Linked DNA regions of Homo sapiens. The protein of the gene in region 1 purifies or fractionates together with the protein of each later gene. This does not show direct contact. Each region holds a gene or a part of one and is shown in the gene's direction. Other genes may lie near its edges.

Region 1 (4,874 bases):
CACCACTCCTGGCAAATTTTTTTTTTTTTTTTTTTTTTTTTTTTTTTTTTTTTTTTTTTAGTAGAGACAGGGTTTCACCATATTAGCCAGGATGGTCTCCATCTCCTGATCTCGTGATCCGCCCACATTGGTCTCCCAAATTGCTGGGATTACAGGCATGAGCCACTGCACCAGGCCGTGTTGTTTCTTTTGACAGTATCTCCTCAAACCCCCAACTCCCAATTGTCTAGTAACCACCCATTTTACTCTTTGTTTCTATGAATGTGACATTTTTATGCTCCACATGTGAGATCACATGGTATTTGTCTGTTCCTGGCTTATTTCACTTAGCATATTGTTCTCCAGATTTGTCTATGTTTCCACAAATGACAAGATTTCCCTTTTTAAAGTCTGATCAATACTTTACTGTGTATACATACCATATTTTCTTTATCCATTCATCAACTGATGGACACTTAGGTTTATTCCATATCTTGGCTATTGTACCTAATGCTGCAATGAAAATGGGAGTACAGATATCTCTTCAATGTATTCATTTCATATCCTTTGGATATATCCTCAGTACTGGGATTACTAGATCATATGGTAGTTCCATTCTTACAGTAGTTTTGAGGAATGTCCATACTGTTTTCCATAATGGCTATACTAATCCACATTACCAGCAACAGTTTACAAGGGTTAACTTTTCTCCATATCCTCACCAACACTTACCTTTCGTCTTTTTGATAATAGCTGTCCTAACAGGCATGAGATGATATCTCATTATGTTTTTAATTTGCATTTACCTGATGATTAGTGATGTCAAGTATTTTTTCATATACCTATTGGCGATTTGTATGCCTTTTGAAAAACATCTCTTCAGATCTTTTACTCATTTTAAAAAATTATGTTTTTTAAAATTACTGAGTTGTTTGAGTTCCTTATATATTTTGAATATTTAACTCCTTATCATATGTTTGGTTTGCAAATATATTCTGCCATTCCATACGTTGCCTCTTTACTCATTTACTTCCTTTATTGTGCAAAAACTTTTTAGTTTGATGTGATGCCTTTTGTCTATTTTTGCTTTTGTTGCTAATGCTAGTTTTGAATGTACAAACAGCGTACATTTTTCAAAAATGTAAAACCACATCACGGAAGAATACTTTTACAAGGGTAATCAGGAATTTTTTGCCTGTAGTACTCATCTGAAGAATTTCCATCCTACAATTCAAATAAAGCAAGCCTTTTTATTGCAAGTTTGAAAGTATTTTATTTAATTTTACTATAAAGGAAGAAAAAATCCAAAGACTTTGAAAAATGGACAATGTTTACAATATATATAGATATATCTTATGTGCATATGATATATATGTATATATCTTATATGATATCTTAGATATATTCTGTCTATCTATCTATCTATCTATCTATCTTTGCAATGGCTATTTCCCCATTTTGCAATTTATTTGGACAAAATGGAGGAAGCCCAAAGTGACATTTTCTGCTGATTTTTTTCCAGACTATCCAAATATATTTAATTAATTTCATTAGGTACCTCCTCTCAGAAAAAAAGTAGTTGTTCTCCATTCTGGCAGATGTTTCTATGAAAGTATATGTTTAGTAAGTAGTATAGACTAATGCTTCAGCAAATCTAGTATTGATACTTTCAAGGTGATGATAGCTAACACTTCACAATTCTCTAAGAAGTGAGTAAACAAACAAGATGTCAATGAACTAATTGTTGCTTTTGGTTAAAAAATCTGCTTGTCAGAGAAAGAAGAAATAGAGGCCTACATTCTCTAGATTCATTACTTTGATTTAGCAACTGTCTTAAAACAGGTGTAAACAAAATTTTAAAATTATAATATTGACCACTTTTGTCTGTCTTCTCTTATAAGCAGCATTTGTCTATCTAAAAGAATAAGCATTTTTTTGTTTGTTTAGAGGTAACTGGATACCTTAATTAAAACTGTTTCATTATCTACATCATGAGAATGTGTTTAGCCTTCTTTGTAAGAAAGATTAAATATGACATGACAAGAGAATTACATAAATGATTAGACTATCTGACCAATCTGCTTGTAGCAGCCCCCAAACTGCCCCTTAGCCTCTCAGATATGCTATACATAGTTCTTTGAAAGGTCTTTCTGAAAACACTTATATCCTTGCCCTAATCCCAAATTTTTAGTGATACTTCACTGTCTTGAATCAAACCAGTGTATAAGTACAAGCTGTGTCCTTTACCCTCCAGTGACCTTGGGCACATTTCTTAACTCTCTATGCCTCAATTTCCTCATCTGTAGAATGGGGATAATAATAGTACCCATCTCACAGAGCAATGGTGAGCTTGAAATGACATAATACATGTAAAATTCTGATAACATAGTGCATGTCCAAACAGTTTTTACTAAACTTATCTTCTCCAGGAATAGTTACCCAGTGGAACATAGTTCTTTAACTCTTTCTTTCCTTCAGAGCTTATTTGCTTGGAGTGTATTACATTTTTGTGAGCTTTATGATAAACATTATAACAGAACCACATAGGTCATTTATTGTGTGTACACACACATGTTCTTTTCCTATGTATATTTTAAATTTACCTAGGAAAAGGACCAAGATATTTTCTTATTTATAATCCTCTGTCCTTGCTCAGAGTATTGCTCTGCACAAGAATACATTTAGTACTGTACTAATTAACTTCTTAAACAAATGAACTGGCTTCCTTACAGCAGTACCATTTTTTCTTTTTTTGAGACAAAGTTTTGCTCTTGTTGCCCATGCTGGAGTGCAATGGTGTGATCTCGGCTCACTGCAACCTCCATCTCCCGGGTTCAAGCCATTCTCCTGCCTCAGCCTCCCAAATAGCTGGGATTACAGGCGTTCACCACCATGCCCAGCTAATTTTTGTATTTTTGATAGAGACGGGGTTTAACCATGTTGGTCAGTTGGCCTCGAACTCCTGACTTCAAGTGATCCACCTGCCTCGGCCTCCCAAAGTGCTGGGATTACAGGAGTGAGCCACCGCGTTCAGCCAGCAGTACCATTTTTACTTGCTGTTCAAATAAAATTCATTTTTAGCCTTTAATTGCACTCTAATTTTATTTAACAGTTGTCTCTTAATTGTGCCTGATTTACTAATGTGTAATTGTCATGCAACAAATTACATTAGTTTACTAAATTTTCAGGTTTTAAAGAATTGGTGTTTTACCAACCAACTTCTAAATAGTAACACCTCACAAACTATTAATAGTTAGGAGGACACACAGAGTCTTCAGAAGAAAAATTTTGAAATCTAATGATGATCCACATTTAATATTAAATTAAAATGTCTGTTTATTTAACCCTTTCATTTCATTAGTATTTTCTTTCTAAAGGACAGTATTTTAGATAAGTATTGCAAAATTGCTTTACATATAATGAGCATTTAAAGGAAAATATAGATCAGAGTACCAGAGCTTATTTTAATAAACAGTACTCTATCTCATAAAATGGCTACCCTAATAACCCAGTTACTTTTATTCTTATCAGAATCTGTTGCTTGAATTAAGCATAATCAAACTTGCCACATTGCCTTTTCCTGTCTCATAAATTATGGAAAACAACTTCCCTCCAATTTCTTTATTGTTTGAAAAATACTTTTCTTTGGAAAGTCAAATCATATTTCTATTATAATCATAAAAATTATGCATGCTTGTTTTTTGAGGAACCTCCATACTGTTCTCCATAGTGGCTGTACTAGTTCACTACTTAAAGTGTATAAGAGTTCCCTTTTCTATGCATCATCACCTGCATTTGTTAATTTTTATCTTTTTTATAATAGCCATCCTAACTGGGGTGAAATGATATCTCTTCGTGGTTTTGATTTGCATATCCCTGATGATTAATGATGTTGAATATGTTTTCATATATTTGTTGGCCGTTTGCATGTCTTCTTTTGAAATGTCTATTCAGCTAATTTGCCAATTTTTGAAATGGGTTTTTTTTTGGCTGTTTTGAGTTCTTTGTATATTCTGGATATTAATTCCCTGTTGTATGAATACTTTGCAAATATTTTCTCCCATTCTCTAGGTAGACTTTTCACATTGTTGATTGTTTCCTTTGCTGTGCATAAGCTGTTTAGTTTGATATAGTCCCATTTGTTTACTTTTGCTTTTGTTGCCTGTGTTTTTGAGGTCTTATTCATAAAGCCTTTTCCCAAACCAGTGTCCTGAAGCATTTACTCTATGTTTTCTTCTAATAGATTTATAGTCTTGTGTCTTACATGTAAGTCTGATCCATTTTGAGTGTATTGTTGTATAGGCAGAGAGGTGGGGGAGTCTAGTTTCAGTTTTCTGCCTATGGTTATCCAATTTTCCCAGCACTATTTATTGAAGAGTCTGCCCTTTCCCAATGAGTGTTCTTGGAGCCTTTGTCAAAAATCAGTTGGCTGTAGATATGTGGATTAATGTTTTGATTTTCTGTTCTGTTCTATTGAACTACGTGCCTCTTTTTATGCCAGAAGTCAATTTTTTTAATACAAAAATCAGTTATTGAAACATTTAGATGGTTGGGAAAATGCCAGAAACCAGAGCTTAAGGGCATATCTGCCTTGGTAACTTAGAACAAAAGAGCTGGTTCTCAATATGTAAAAAAGATGTCCATAATAGAGTTTCAAATGAAAAAAGCAAGTTGTGAGACAATATCTATTATTTGCTCCCATCTATATAAAAAAGTATAGATGCATATATGTTCTGTGCATGTGTGTTTGTTTTCATTCACATAGAAAAATGTCTGACAATATATACACCGAACCAGTGAAATCAGATTGAAGGAAAAGCTTTAACTTTGTATTTTCTATTCTGAATCACGTTTTGAATTTTTAAAACAAGCATATATTATTTTTATAATTAAAA
Region 2 (4,851 bases), on another chromosome or scaffold:
GTTAAGAGTCCTTTATAGACAAATCCTTTGTCTTTTGTGTATTGCGAATAGTTTTCCCCTTATTCTGTTATCTTTTAACTTTGTTTTCAGTTTTTTTCAAGTTATTCCATCTCTCTGATTTTTTAAATTCTTTTTTCTGATTTATTTTTTAAAACAAAGTTCTTGATTATAAAAGTAATACAAACACCGTAAGAAATTAATACAAAAGTACAAAGAAGAAACCACCCCATCTTATCACTGAGAGAAAACAACATAATCAATTACATATTTCCCTGTAGTCTTTTGCGTGTGCAGTTTTTTTTCACAGTTGTGATCACATTCATTTGTGTGTGTCTCTATATTTGTTTTTCTCTCAGTACCATAGTGTTTAGACACAAACCCTGGCCTTTTTTCGTTTCTTCTTTTTTTTTTTTTTTGGAGATGGAGTCTCCCTCTGTCGCCCAGGCTGGAGTTCAGTGGCGTGATCTTGGCTCACTGCAACCTCCGCCTTCCGGGTTCAAGCGATTCTCCTGCCTCAGCCTCCCGAGTAGCTGGGACTACAGGTGCGTGCCACCATGCCCAGCTAATTTTTGTATTTTTAGTAGAGATGGGGTTTCGCCATGTTGGTCAGGCTGGTCTTGAACTCCTGACCTCAAATGATCCACCTGCCTTGGCTTCCCAAAGTGATGGGATTACAGGTGTGAGCTACCACGCCCCGCCACCCTGGCCTTTTTTCAAATGCACTTGGTTTAAAGATTGTGTTATGCCAGCTTCCAACCCCTATTCCTCTTTTCCATATATCCTGAGAAATTTAGAAGGTGAGGGGCCCAAGGTCTATCCTTAGCTGACCTGAAGCGAAGTTGGCTGAGAAGCACAAGAAGGGGTAGAAGTGCTCTGGCGGAGCACTTATTAAAAAGACGCGGAGGTTTTGGTTGACTGCAAGCCCAATATGAGTCAACAGTATGGGTGCCAAGAACTTTATCGCAGGAGTGCAAAGCGATAGGTCCCAAAAGGAGGAAGCTATAGTCCTGCTTTGCTCTGATGATACCACAAACATTTGGTTCAGTCTTGGGTGATGTATTCTAAAGAAATCACAGTCAAATCTACCATTTGCGTGAGAGGGATAAAGACCCTCAAAACCAGGGCAGAGGAGGAACAATGGAAGGAACGGGAGACACTGATGTGGAATGAGAAGACCTTGGGCAGAGGTGATAGAAGTAAAGTATCTGAAAAGTCAAAGGTCCAGGAGAGATTAGACGTTTGTTCTCTGTGGCTCCAAGGCATCGAATTTCGGCCCTGAGAGTGGAAGTTTAGACACATTTTCTCACTGGTGAGAGCTGCTCGGACCAAGGAATTCAGTCCTCTGGAAATAGCTAGCTGCTTTTGCGGAGTCTTCCTGCTGAGTTGCTGGTGGTGGGGTGAACATTTATTGAGTGCTTACTGTGTGCCAGGATCCTGCTGAGGGCCTCACCTATATTGTGTGATTTCATCCCGTCAACACCCTTTGATGTGGGGACTGTTGTTCCCTATCCTGGTGCTACAAATGTGGGCACCAGGTATAGGAGGTCAGGTACCTCGCCCGAGGTTACAGTTTGTAAGTGGTGGTACTGGGACTGGAACTCGTTCTGACAAACTTCAAAGCTGGTGTTTTTAGCCATCAAGGGGATTCGAGGGTGCCATGGGGGTGTGGACGCATGAGGGGCCTTGAGGTCCATTAGACCAAAACATTCTGTGACTGGGAAAAAGGATGCCCTCTCCTCCCAAGGAAAAGCTTCTTCTGAATGAGACACAGTGGAGAGGTTAGCCCAGGGCCAGGCTGAGGGGCGCAGGCAGAATGCCAAGGGATGGAGACCCTCAGAAGGGCAAAGCCGGTGTTCCATCGTTTGAAGATCTCCAGACCCGCGGGACAGACAGACGCAGCGCGGTCAGGGAGCGTCGGCTTCGCCGAACTCTGCGGCGGAGCTGGGGGACGGAACAGCGCGCCGGTCCCTGGCCGGGCGCGAGCAGAGGGGCGGCGCGGGGCGGTGCCGGGCGGCGGGGGCGGGGAGGGCGCGCGTTGAGGCGGCTGCGGCAGTTGCGCGCTGGGATTGTTGCGGTGCGCTGGAGCCGGTGAGTGCGGCGGGCCCCGTGGGCGGGCGGGGAAGGAGCGGGCGAACGGGGAGCTAGGTGGGGAGGTGCGCGGCCGAACACGCGACCCCAGGGTAGCGGCCGCCGCCTGCCCCCGCCCCCGGCCCCCAGGGACCATGGCCCCAAGGCCCCTCTCCTTAGGCCGAGTCCCCGCCAGCGCGCTCGCGGACGCCGCACGCCTCCCAACTCCCTCGGTGCGGCCCCCGCCCCACGGCAGCCCCTTCCTCCGCGCCGCCGCGACGCCTCCGGCCCACGTCACGCTCGCGCCATTGTTTCCCAGCCGCCGGCTCGCTGGGACCCCGCCTCAGCCTCCCAGCGCGGCCGTTCGCCGCGTTCCGCCCTCTTCCCCCCTTTCCTCACGCTGGTGGTAGCCCTTTCCTCAGTCCTGCTGACGTCCTCCAGCTGATTCCAGGCTGTTCCCGGCCACCCCTGAGGCCGTCTTTTCGCTTCTTGTAAAAGCCTCCCCGCCCCCAGAGCTCCTCGGTCGCCTCCCGAGAAGCCAAGGGGCCTCTGGTGGAGCGCCAGGTTGACAGCGTTTTAGCAGGACCGCGAGAAACGGCCAGCTCGTTTGCCACACGCCCGTGTGCAACACTTCCTGGAAAGGTCACAGCGAATTGCAAGCCGCCACAAAAAACATCCGGACAGCTCCTGGTCAGGGGGCTGAGCCGTTCAGTGGCGGCCTATTCTTCTCCTTTTTTCGGGGCTCCTGAAATCGGAGAGGGCGAGATGCCGATCTGAGGCCTGAACCCTTAGTTTAAGAAAAACGTTTTGGGGGTTTGACTCCGGCAGGCCACAGCTTCTAAAAGCAGCAGGTAGAGGCTGCTGTCCGAATCGACGTTTTCCTGGGCTTTCACCTTTAGGGCCTTGATGTTTGAGGGGGGTCGTGCTCTGAAGTACAGCGCCCCGAAATGACTAGTCACCATTACAGGGGGGTGTGTGCGCGCCCGTCCAGGGGCCGATGAGTTCTTCAGGATTGAGCTGTACTTGGTTCCCAGTGTCTGTAGACTATTCATTTCGCCTCTTCAAGCAACGAATGCAAACTACTGACCATAATGTGAAAGGGAGAATATTGAAACTGTGTCATTTACCATGAAAACTTAGTGTTATTGCGTAGAGAAGGCTTTAGGTTTCAAAAATATTTACCACATGGCTTTTCAACAACGGTTAGAATTTATCCAGATGAAGACATCCAGGCCTGAAAGGGTGAAGTTCGAAAAGAGAAAAAAAATAGGTGTGAGCTGAGAGTGGAAAAAAAAAAAAGAACAAAAAAGGTTAAGTTCAAGAAAACATAGCTGGTTAGTAATTAAAATAAAAACTCCACATGCAGGGTTGATACTAGCATACACAGACTTATTTCTGAAGTGCATTTCCATTGCAGTGTAAACCACTACATTTCAACAGTATAGGTAGCTGCATTACTCTCATTGACCCAGAATTAAGGTTTTAGGATTTAGTAACCAACAAATCTGTAAAATAAGGTGGAGGGGCGCGGGGTGGAGTGGGGGGGGTTCTGAAGGAGATGTTATGCAAGATTCCTTTCAGTTCAAAGGTTTGATGCCATTGTATGAAAATTTACCATCAGCTACAAGTTTTCAGAAGTTTGTAATTGTAAGAAGATTTATATAGATAGTATTCCCTTATAGTACCTGCCACCCTTAACCAGAAGACATCACATCTTCCTAAAGAAAGCCAGATTACAATAGAATGTTAGGCACAGAGGTGCTCATTAATCTTTCTCTAGGCTATTTCTCCTGTTTTATGGGGAAAGAGGAGTACATAAAACACAGGTTTTTTTTTTTAAGTATTTCCTCTCTCTCTCTTTTTTTTTTTTTTTTGAGACGGAGCTTTGCTCTTGTTGGCCAGGCTGGAGTGCAATGGCATGATCTTGGCTCATTGCAACCTCCACCTCCCGGGTTCAAGCAGTTCTCCTGCCTCGGCCTCCCGAGTAGCTGGGATTACAGGCATGCGCCACCACGCCTGGCTAATTTTGTAGAGACGGGGTTTCTCCAAGTTGGTCAGGCTGGTCTCGAACTCCTGACCTCAGGTGATCTGCCCGCCTCGGCCTCCCAAGTACTGGGATTACAGGCTTGAGCCACTGCGTCCGACCCTGTTGCTTAATTCTCTTACCAAAAGCTTAATTCAGTGAAATAGTAAATAACAACAAATCCCCAAAAACAAAAACCCACAACTTTGTCATGTTATGACTGTGCTCTTTTAAAGTACTTACATAGACTGGTTTTTATCTAGTACACTTGCTGTGTACATATTATTTGGGATTTTGCTCTTACCAATATTTCTGGGATGTCCATGTATTTAGAGAATTCATCTAATCTTCATTAGTAGATGCTCTCTAATGTGCCCCGGTAGTCAACAATGCCTGGCACACAGGCTCTTAGTAAATTTTTGTTGAATAAGTGTTGTAATGTTTTGAGGTTTTTAGACATTTAACACAAAATACTAACTATCACAAGGCATATGTTGAGTGACGTGAGCAGTAAAGGCAGTCATACTTTCAGCCAGGAGACATTGCATTTATTTAAGGGCCCGGATTTTGTAGTCTGGCTTGCTACTTAACATCATGCAACCTCGGGGAACTCAGTTAACCTTAGACAAGCTCACTCAGTTTCTCTCACCTTGAGAAGGGAAAAATAGAACAAATTTTACAGAGTTATGTGGATTAAATAGAATAATTCAGTTGAAGTGATACTGGCACACATTAAGTTCTCTATAAATGTTAGTTTTTTT
Region 3 (4,187 bases), on another chromosome or scaffold:
GCGGAACATTATTTCATTGTATGCGTGGCTACACCACATTCTGCTTATCCGTTCATCAGCTGATGGACGTTTGAGTTGTTTCCACCTTGGCTATTATGAGCATTCATTGAACAATTATTTGCTTTTAGGTAATTTATTTTAAGTGGTATGTAGTCATTGTGGAAACTTTGAAAAATATTAAAGAATATAAAGGATGTGATAAAATTTGCTCATAATCCCACCACTCAAAAAAAAAAAGCTTTATTAACACGTTTTCTGTGGGGAAAAAAATGCATGTTTATATAATTTGTTTTATAATTCTTTATTTCTCTTGAAGATTTGCTTTGCATTTGAACAGATTTTGTTTGCTAAATCACAGCAAGACTGGCCAACTGCAGTTGTCATAAATAATTTATCAGTCATTGTGCAATGGGAGTATAGTGGAGTTATCTGCCATCAGATGGGCATGGGGAGGGTTTAGAGAAAATTTCACAGAGGAGGAAACATATATTATGAAAATATGCATGAGGTTCTGATACCTGTCAGTAAATAAAACATTGGGTCTTCTAATAAGGTCGTATTTGTTCTGTTGTAGGAGGCTGGCAGGATGTACAGTTTTTATCACAGGTGCAAGCCGTGGCATTGGCAAAGCTATTGCATTGAAAGCAGCAAAGGATGGAGCAAATATTGTTATTGCTGCAAAGACCGCCCAGCCACATCCAAAACTTCTAGGCACAATCTATACTGCTGCTGAAGAAAGTGAGTGTGACAGTGCCATTTGATAAAATGTCTTTCTAGTGGTTTCAATACATAGAGAATTTGCTGGAGAGTTTAGTTAAAGCTATTTGAAAGCTACCCTGAACATAATTTTATCTAGTGAAAGAAGTATTTATGTTGTCACCTTGGGGCAGTGCTTCTGACCGTTTTTCTCCACCAGCACTTTTAAGCAATGTGAGAAACTCCAGTTAAAAATCTTATTTCATGGCGGGGCGTGGTGACTCACACCTGTAATTTCACCCAGCTACTCGGGAGGCTGAGGCAGGAGAATCACTTGAACCTGGGAGGTGGAGGTTGCAGTGAGCCAAGATCATGCCACAGCACTCCAGCTTGGGTGACAGAGCGAGACTCCATCTCTTAAAAAAAAAAAAATCTTGGTTCTTGAGGGCAGTGGTTCTTGGATGGGAGGGGGAGTAGGGAAGTGGAGTAGAGAGGAGAGAATTTGATTGGTGAGTGGCATGAACTCTTTGAGAAAGCGTTCTGTGTTATTTATTCTCTGTACAATTTGCAAGTCATCATTTTAATACTTTTAGTTGACAAATAATTATCACATACTTCTATTTAAGGCATAGCGCTAGGCACAGAGCCAGGAGAGAGGGCTTAAAAATTCAAGTTCAGTTGACATTGCTAGTTTTGTTAATCATGTTCAGAGCACTGTGGTTATGTTAGAGGAATGCATGTGAAGTGTTTATGAGTGAAATGATGTCAGGGATTTGCTTTAAAACACACCAGCAAAAAATAAAACAGGGGACAGGAAAGATAAACATATTAACTGACAAAACTAACAATCGTTGAAGATAGGTGATGGATTCCTGTTAGTTTATTACAGCATCTTTACATTTTTATATAGTTTAGAATATTTCCACAATAAAAAGTTTTTAAAAATTACTTTCAACTGGGTGAGGTGGCTCAAGCCTGTAATCCCAGCACTTTGGGAGGCCAAGGCGGGTGGATCACTTGAGGTCAGGAGTGCGAGACCAGCCTGACCAACATGGCAAAACCGTGTCTCTACAAAAAATAGAAAAATTAGCCTGGCGTGGTGGTGCATGCCTATAGTCCCAGCTACTTGGGAAGCTGAGGTGGGAGGATCCTTTGAGCCTGGGAGATTGAGGCTGCAGTGAGCTGTGTTTGTGCCACTTCACCCAAGCCTGGGCAAGAGAGTGAGACCCTGTCTGAAAAACAAAAACAAACAAACAAAAAACTTCCTTTTTTTAGCTTTTTAAAAAAATTACAAAGAAACCCCCACCAAACCTTCGTTTTTGTTTTTTAATAGTGTTAGCCTAGCTAGTCTGTCCTGCTATATGGTAGAGTCACTGGTGGTAAGATAGAGTTATTTATATTGATTTTCTGAAAACAGGGTACTTTTTTCTTTTGACTGTGATATTGGAATTAAAGGTATAATATTTAAATGCTTTAACGCTTTTTCATTTTGTATCCTTTATATAAGTTGAAGCAGTTGGAGGAAAGGCCTTGCCATGTATTGTTGATGTGAGAGATGAACAGCAGATCAGTGCTGCAGTGGAGAAAGCCATCAAGAAATTTGGAGGTAATACCTTCATTCTGAAAAAATTATTGGATATTGGTAAAATAAAGGTATAACTATAATGTTAATTTAAAAATTTGTTTTGAGTTTTGAATTTTCTGAGTCTTTGGAGAAATACGTATTTGCTCACACAGAACATGATTTAAAACCATCTGATAAGGCTGGGCGTGGTGGCTCACACCTGTAATCCCAGCACTTTGGGAGGCCGAGGCAGGCAGATCACTTGAGGTCAGGAGTTTAAGACCAGCCTGGCCAACATGGTGAAACCCCGTCTCTACTAAAAATACAAAAATTAGCTGAACATGGTGGTGGATGCCTGTAATCCCAGCTACTCAGGAGGCTGAGGTGGAAGAATTGCTTGAACCTGGGAGGTGGAGGTTGCAGTGAGCTGAGATTGCACCACTGCATTCCAGCCTGGGTGACAGAGCAAGACTCTGTCTCAAAAAGAAAAAAAAAAAAAAGAAAAAGAGTGTGGAATGATAGACTGTGGAGACTGGGAAGAAAGAAGGGATGCAAGGGGGGTAGATGAAGAGAAATTACTTAATCGGTACAATGTTTGCTGTTTGGGTGATGGATACCCTAAAAGTCCTGGACACTGCACAATCTATGTATGTGAGAAAATTGCACTTGTGCCTTATATATTTGTTTTTGAAAAAATTCTTCCTTTATGTGGTTAAATTTCATCTTCTTCACAAAGTCAGTTCCCTCACCATGCCAACTAATCAGAATTATATTTTTCTTTCTCTGATTTCTTTTTTCTTTTTTTTTGAGACTGAGTCTTGCTCTTGTCACCCAGGCTGGAGTGCAGTGGCGCAATCTCGGCTCACTGCAACCTCTGCCTCCTGGGTTCAAGCGATTCTCCTGCCTCAGCCTCCCGAGTAGCTGGGATTACAGGCGCCTGCCACCATGCCCAGCTAATTTTTGTATATTTAGTAGAGACAGGTTTCGCCACATTGGCCAGGCTGGTCTCGAACTCCTGACTTCATGATCCACCCAACTCAGCCTCCCAAAGTGCTGGGATTACAGGCGTGAGCCACCGTGCCCGGCCTCTCTGATTTCTTAAAACATTCATTTGATCCTTATCTTGTACTATTTTAGATCTTAGTATTTCTTTTCTCCCCAATTAGTTCAAAAGTTCCTAGAAAAAAGGTGTTGGGGATTGAGCTAAGGCTTTCATGGTATTATAGTAGGGCACCTAGGCATGTCCAAATCCTGCCTAAACCATTACCACTCTCCCCGCTAATGTTCTGGAGGACCATATGTACATGTGAGGGACAATGGCCAGTGGAAAATGAGGGAATGCTTCAGTGTTAGCAAGGCTGTACTTATAATCCCAATGCAGAGTGCTGTGGGGTGCTGGACTGAAGCACGGAGCTTTGGCTCAAGTGGAGCCTCTTCCCTTAAATCCAAAATCTTACCCCTAGCCGGCAGCCTTTCCCAAAGAAATGTGAATGCCTGTGTCAGAAGAGGAGAGAAAATGCAAAATGATGTTTGTCCAACTGATAGGGCGCTAAATGTGAAATGTGCCACGCTCAAATGCAGGATATTTTATCTAAAATGACTTCACCTAGTAGTAAAAGTGGTTAACTAGTGCCACTTAGGATTTGATGTAATTAGTTTATCCACTAATTTTTGGAGAGGACGTAAGGGGAGAAAGCTGAAGCTTTTCATTCTCCCATATTCATTCAGTTTTAGTTCTTTTTTTTTTCTTCTTTGAAACAGGGTCTCACTCTGTCACCCAGACTGGTATGTAGTGGCATGATCGTGGCTCACCACAGCTTTGGCCTCCTGGGCTCAGGTGATCCTCCAACCCCAGCCTCCCAAGAAGCTGGGACTATAGGTGCCCACCACCAGGCCTAGCTAATTTTTGTGTTTTTAGTAGAGATGG
Region 4 (4,187 bases), on another chromosome or scaffold:
TGCTGGGTTCTCAGCCTCAGCCATCTTGGGGACAGGGGTAGACATGAAAGGACCCTGCTGGCTGCTGGGTGCATAAGGCTCCTGAAAGGCCTGCATGGCTGTGGGGAGCCCAGGTGGACGTTGTCAGCAGACTAGCCACCACCTCCTCCAAAGCTACTGACAGCCTTTTCAAGGAATCTTTAGAAGAAAATGAGCAAAGTCTCTATCTACACCACTCAGAGACCAGGCTGCCAGCCAGCTTTACAGAGAAGAGAAAGCAAGCCCTACTTTGATCCAATGGACTGGCACTTTATGTTCATAATTTCATTTACTCCTTGTTGATAGCCCTGGGAGAGAGGTGGTGGTGGCCTCTGTTTTACAGGAGTCAGGAAGCTGTGGCTCAGAGAAATGACACCATGGTCACGGTCCCCCACATGGTTGATAGCAGAATCCAGATTGGAGTCCACGTCTGTCTGGGCCAAGCCTGAGCTCTTCCACGGTCCCACACCACTAAGGTTTTGTTCTTTATGAAAGGCTCTCGGGCCCAGATAGCTCCTTAGAGATCCCAGGTAACAGAACAAGCTTTGGCTTCAAAAGAAAAAACTGTCATTTGTACAAAGCCATCCATCAGCAGTGCTCATAATAGCAAGAAACTGGAAACAACCCAAAGGCCCCGAAAACAGGCATGGCGGAGCAGCTGATAGGTCCTCCATGCAGCAGAGAGTTACGCAGCCATGGCAGTGGCAAGGTGCAGATTGTCCTGAGGTGGGGACACACACCTGGGGCACCTCGGGTGAGGAAGCTCCTCGCTGAGCATGCGGTGCCCACTAGAGACAGCCTGGAGCTCTGTGACAGGCCTGGGTGCACACCCTCCTGGGCCGCTAGCCGGGTGCATGGCTTTGGGTGGGGATGAGAACCCTGAGGCTGGGCTTTGGGTAGCTGGCTTGCCAACAAGGGGTATGCCACAGGGTGATACCTGGGAAAGGCTCGGCAAGGGCCCGCCACCACACTGGTGCCCAGCAGATGGCCGTCCAGTGTCTAATGTATCTGCAAATAGACTGGCATGGACCCCAGGAATCCAGAATCCTGCGGAATCAGGAGCTTGGTCTGCCTGGGTCTTTTTCTCCCCTGTGAAGTTGTTCTAAGTCATGATGTACAAGGGGCTTAGAGTTTAGCCCATTGGGAATTAAGGGTCAGGCCCCCACTTCCTTTGAAGGCTAGAGGCAGACCACCCCAACTTCACCCCACCCAGACCCAGGTCCAGTGGTACAAAAGCTGGCTGGCTGGGGTGTGGTGTAGGCCAGGTGGCTCCCTCAACTCACCAGCCATCCTTGATCCCTCCTTGGCCAGGCCGTCCTGCGATGTGCTGGTGGAAAGGGGGCCGATGGCCTGTTTAAACCCACCTGTGATGGATTTGTCATCTCCACTGCCGGCCGAGCCTGTGCAGGTTCAGGTTGAGCGGTGGCAGGATGTGAAATGCTGCTCAAGGTTTAGGCCCAGGTCAGAGCCTGTTGAGCCCCATAATGTCACGTGACTCAGTGTCTCCTCCCTTTCTAGTGTGGTGCCTCTTGTCCAGATGGGAGAGACCGATGCGAACGTGGCCAAGTTCTTAAACAGGTACTCGCGTGGAACCTGGGGGTTCCTCTCTGAAAGCCGAGGCTCATCTGTGGGAAGTAGCAGCGGTGCAGCGGTCCGGGAAGCAGTGTGGGGCAGCATTCCCGCACCCCCTCCTTCATTCCCTTAGTGTTTATGAACATCTGCTCTGTGCCAGGCACCACGCCGGGCACAGGGGAGGCAGTGGTGAACAAGGTGGGCCCTGTGCCTGTCCCGATAAGATTTAGATCTTATTGGGAGAGGCTGCTGTAAAAACCAGGAAGAAAAACCTAAGTGCAAAGTGGCATTGCGGGGGCAAAGGGCGTTCTTAGAGGCTGGGTGCTCAGGGGAGGCCTCTCGGTGGTGACTGACCAGGGAGCCAGGCTTCAGGCCCTCTCTCAGCCAGTTTCCTGTCCCCGAGAGGGCCTGCGGCAGCATGAACCAACAAGAGAGCCGGGCCAAGCTGCGCTCAGGGGACCCCATGCAGGCCCCAGTGAGCCAGGCTAGCCCAGGGAGGGCTTCCTCTGCCTCGCGGCCGGCCCATGAGGCTGGAGCCACACCTGGCCCAAAGCCTGCTCTGCGGGTTCCTGCCCCAGCCCTGGCTTCTGTGGCATCAGTGTGGGCAAGGCCAGAGCCTGGGGGCAGGTAGAGAGCTGGGGGAGCAGGTCTGCACCCCAGGAGCTGTCCTGGGTGTCTAGAAAGTGACCTCAGGCCCTTGACTGTGGCCACTCCTCCCAGAGACATGGCGCTTTGACGGGTCCTGAGCAGCTCCTTTCCTTCTGGGAGGGGGGTTTCGCCGGGAGTGAGGAGCAGGTCTACTTCACCTTCAAAGCAGCAACCCTGCGGTCCCATAGCATTGCACGGGACAGGCCATTTCATCTCCTCAGTGAGGCTTCACAGAGCCAACAAGCAACAGGCACACCACTGCCCTCCAGGAGCATGCGGCCCAGGGGTAAAATACCCTGAACAACCTCCCCTTCGCTCTTCCTGAGAGCCAGCCGTGGGGCCCAGGGGGCCTGAGTCAGGGGAGGACTCAGGAGGATGTGGTGTGGAGCTGGCCTCTGAGGGCAAGACTGGGGCAGAGAGAGAGGGAGGAACGTGGTGCCTCGTGCTGGGAGTGAAACAGCAAAAGGTGCGGACAGCAGAAGGCAGAAGAGCTGACAGCGTAAGCGCCTTCTGGGGCCCGTGGCGTCGTCCTCTAGTTCCCTCCACTGCTGCCCCTGCAGAAGGCCTCATGCACAGATGACCATTGCTGTTGGTTCAAAGGAGGAGGCGGGAAAGGGGCTGGGCTCTGGTCTCTAGAGTGCTCCAGCCTGTGCTTCTCACCCGGTACCTTTGGCGATGTTTGGAGGCATTACTAGTTGTCACACTGGGTGCAGGGGTGCCACTGGCACCTGGTGGGTGGAGACCAAAGGTGCTGTCAGCATCCTACACTGCACAGGATGCACAGGACAGCCCCGAACACACAGAATGATCCAGAATGTCAGTAGGGCCTAGTCCAGCAGTGTCAGCATCAGCCAGGGCAGGAACTAGACCTGCAGAGCCCCGGGCCCAGCCCAGCCCAGCCCTCCTGAGTCAGAATCTGCACGTCGCTGAGATCCCCTGGTGATGCCTGTGCACACTGTAGTTTGGGAAACACCCAAACTGATCACGCACCTGAGCCCTGATCACTCAAAGGTGCAAAAACCGGCTCAGAGAGGAGTCCAAAGTCATCTGCCCCATGGGGTAGGGCCGGGGCAATGGCCTCATCCTGCAGGAATGGCCCCAGCCTTGACACTGGAGTAGAGTCCTTGGCATTCACAGCAGCTGGCCTCGTGTGCCATCCATTAAGTGCAAGATGGCTGGGCCCCCGCCCTCCCTGCACAATGTGCCCAGAGTGCGTCATTTATATCTCCTCCTTGTAGGCGGATATGGGAAGACCCAGTTAGCGTTGATCTCTCATTTCAAACCATTCTGTTTGCTTCTCTCTCTCTGCCCCTCCAGACTCAGTGACTATCTCTTCACGCTAGCCAGATATGCAGCCATGAAGGAGGGGAATCAAGAGAAAATATACATGAAAAATGACCCATCGGCCGAGTCTGAGGGACTCTGAAATCACAGAAAGTGGGAGCTTGGAGGATCCCTCCATGGCGATGGCCGTGGAGAGAGGAGCTTGCCCTTCTGGGGTCCTGGTTCCTGAAGAGCTCACCCAGAGAGGCTCAAAGCAGCCTTTTGTCCCAGCTCAGCTTTGATCTACACCTCTTGCCACCTTCCTCAAGGGACTGTGACCCTTTGGGGATTCTGTCCCTGACCCTGCTTCCCCAAGCTCTCCTGGGTCTTGGAGGGATGTGGGAATGAATTGGCATTGCAGGAAAGACAGGTAAAGTGATTGCTGCAATGAGAAGGAGCTGTGCGGAAAAGGAATAAAAGTTGGAAAGGCTGGAGCCGTGTGTGTGTGTGTGTGTGTGTGTGTGTGTGTGTGTGTGTGTGTGAGAGAGAGCCCTCCCACTGCCAGCTCAGGTTGTTCACAGATTTGGAATGGGACCAGAGGCCCTTGAAAATGTAATTGTGATTTACCTGTGCCAAAGGTGCTTTAAATGTCACATTTGTAAAGGGGAAGGCGGACAAGATTTGGA

The links. Proteins that work in one complex are often made in the same cells at the same time.
Region 2: the proteins of FAM133A (region 1) and NT5C2 purify together in Homo sapiens (affinity purification with mass spectrometry; one large-scale study listed by BioGRID and IntAct). This does not show direct contact.
Region 3: the proteins of FAM133A (region 1) and HSDL2 purify together in Homo sapiens (affinity purification with mass spectrometry; one large-scale study listed by BioGRID and IntAct). This does not show direct contact.
Region 4: the proteins of FAM133A (region 1) and MMAB purify together in Homo sapiens (affinity purification with mass spectrometry; one large-scale study listed by BioGRID and IntAct). This does not show direct contact.

The regions. Positions count from the first base shown.
Region 1 is NC_000023.11:93,679,900-93,684,773, forward strand, and holds part of FAM133A (protein FAM133A), read left to right. Parts: intron 1-4,874.
Region 2 is NC_000010.11:103,190,473-103,195,323, reverse strand, and holds the start of NT5C2 (cytosolic purine 5'-nucleotidase), read left to right. Parts: upstream 1-2,051; 5' UTR 2,052-2,088; exon of another isoform or gene 2,089-2,918; intron 2,919-4,851. UniProt on the Homo sapiens protein: Broad specificity cytosolic 5'-nucleotidase that catalyzes the dephosphorylation of 6-hydroxypurine nucleoside 5'-monophosphates.
Region 3 is NC_000009.12:112,403,421-112,407,607, forward strand, and holds part of HSDL2 (hydroxysteroid dehydrogenase-like protein 2), read left to right. Parts: intron 1-574; coding exon 575-738; intron 739-2,203; coding exon 2,204-2,302; intron 2,303-4,187. UniProt on the Homo sapiens protein: Has apparently no steroid dehydrogenase activity. Controls bile acid (BA) and lipid metabolism in response to nutritional cues.
Region 4 is NC_000012.12:109,556,505-109,560,691, reverse strand, and holds part of MMAB (corrinoid adenosyltransferase MMAB precursor), read left to right. Parts: intron 1-1,536; coding exon 1,537-1,596; intron 1,597-3,555; coding exon 3,556-3,664; 3' UTR 3,665-4,187. UniProt on the Homo sapiens protein: Converts cob(I)alamin to adenosylcobalamin (adenosylcob(III)alamin), a coenzyme for methylmalonyl-CoA mutase, therefore participates in the final step of the vitamin B12 conversion.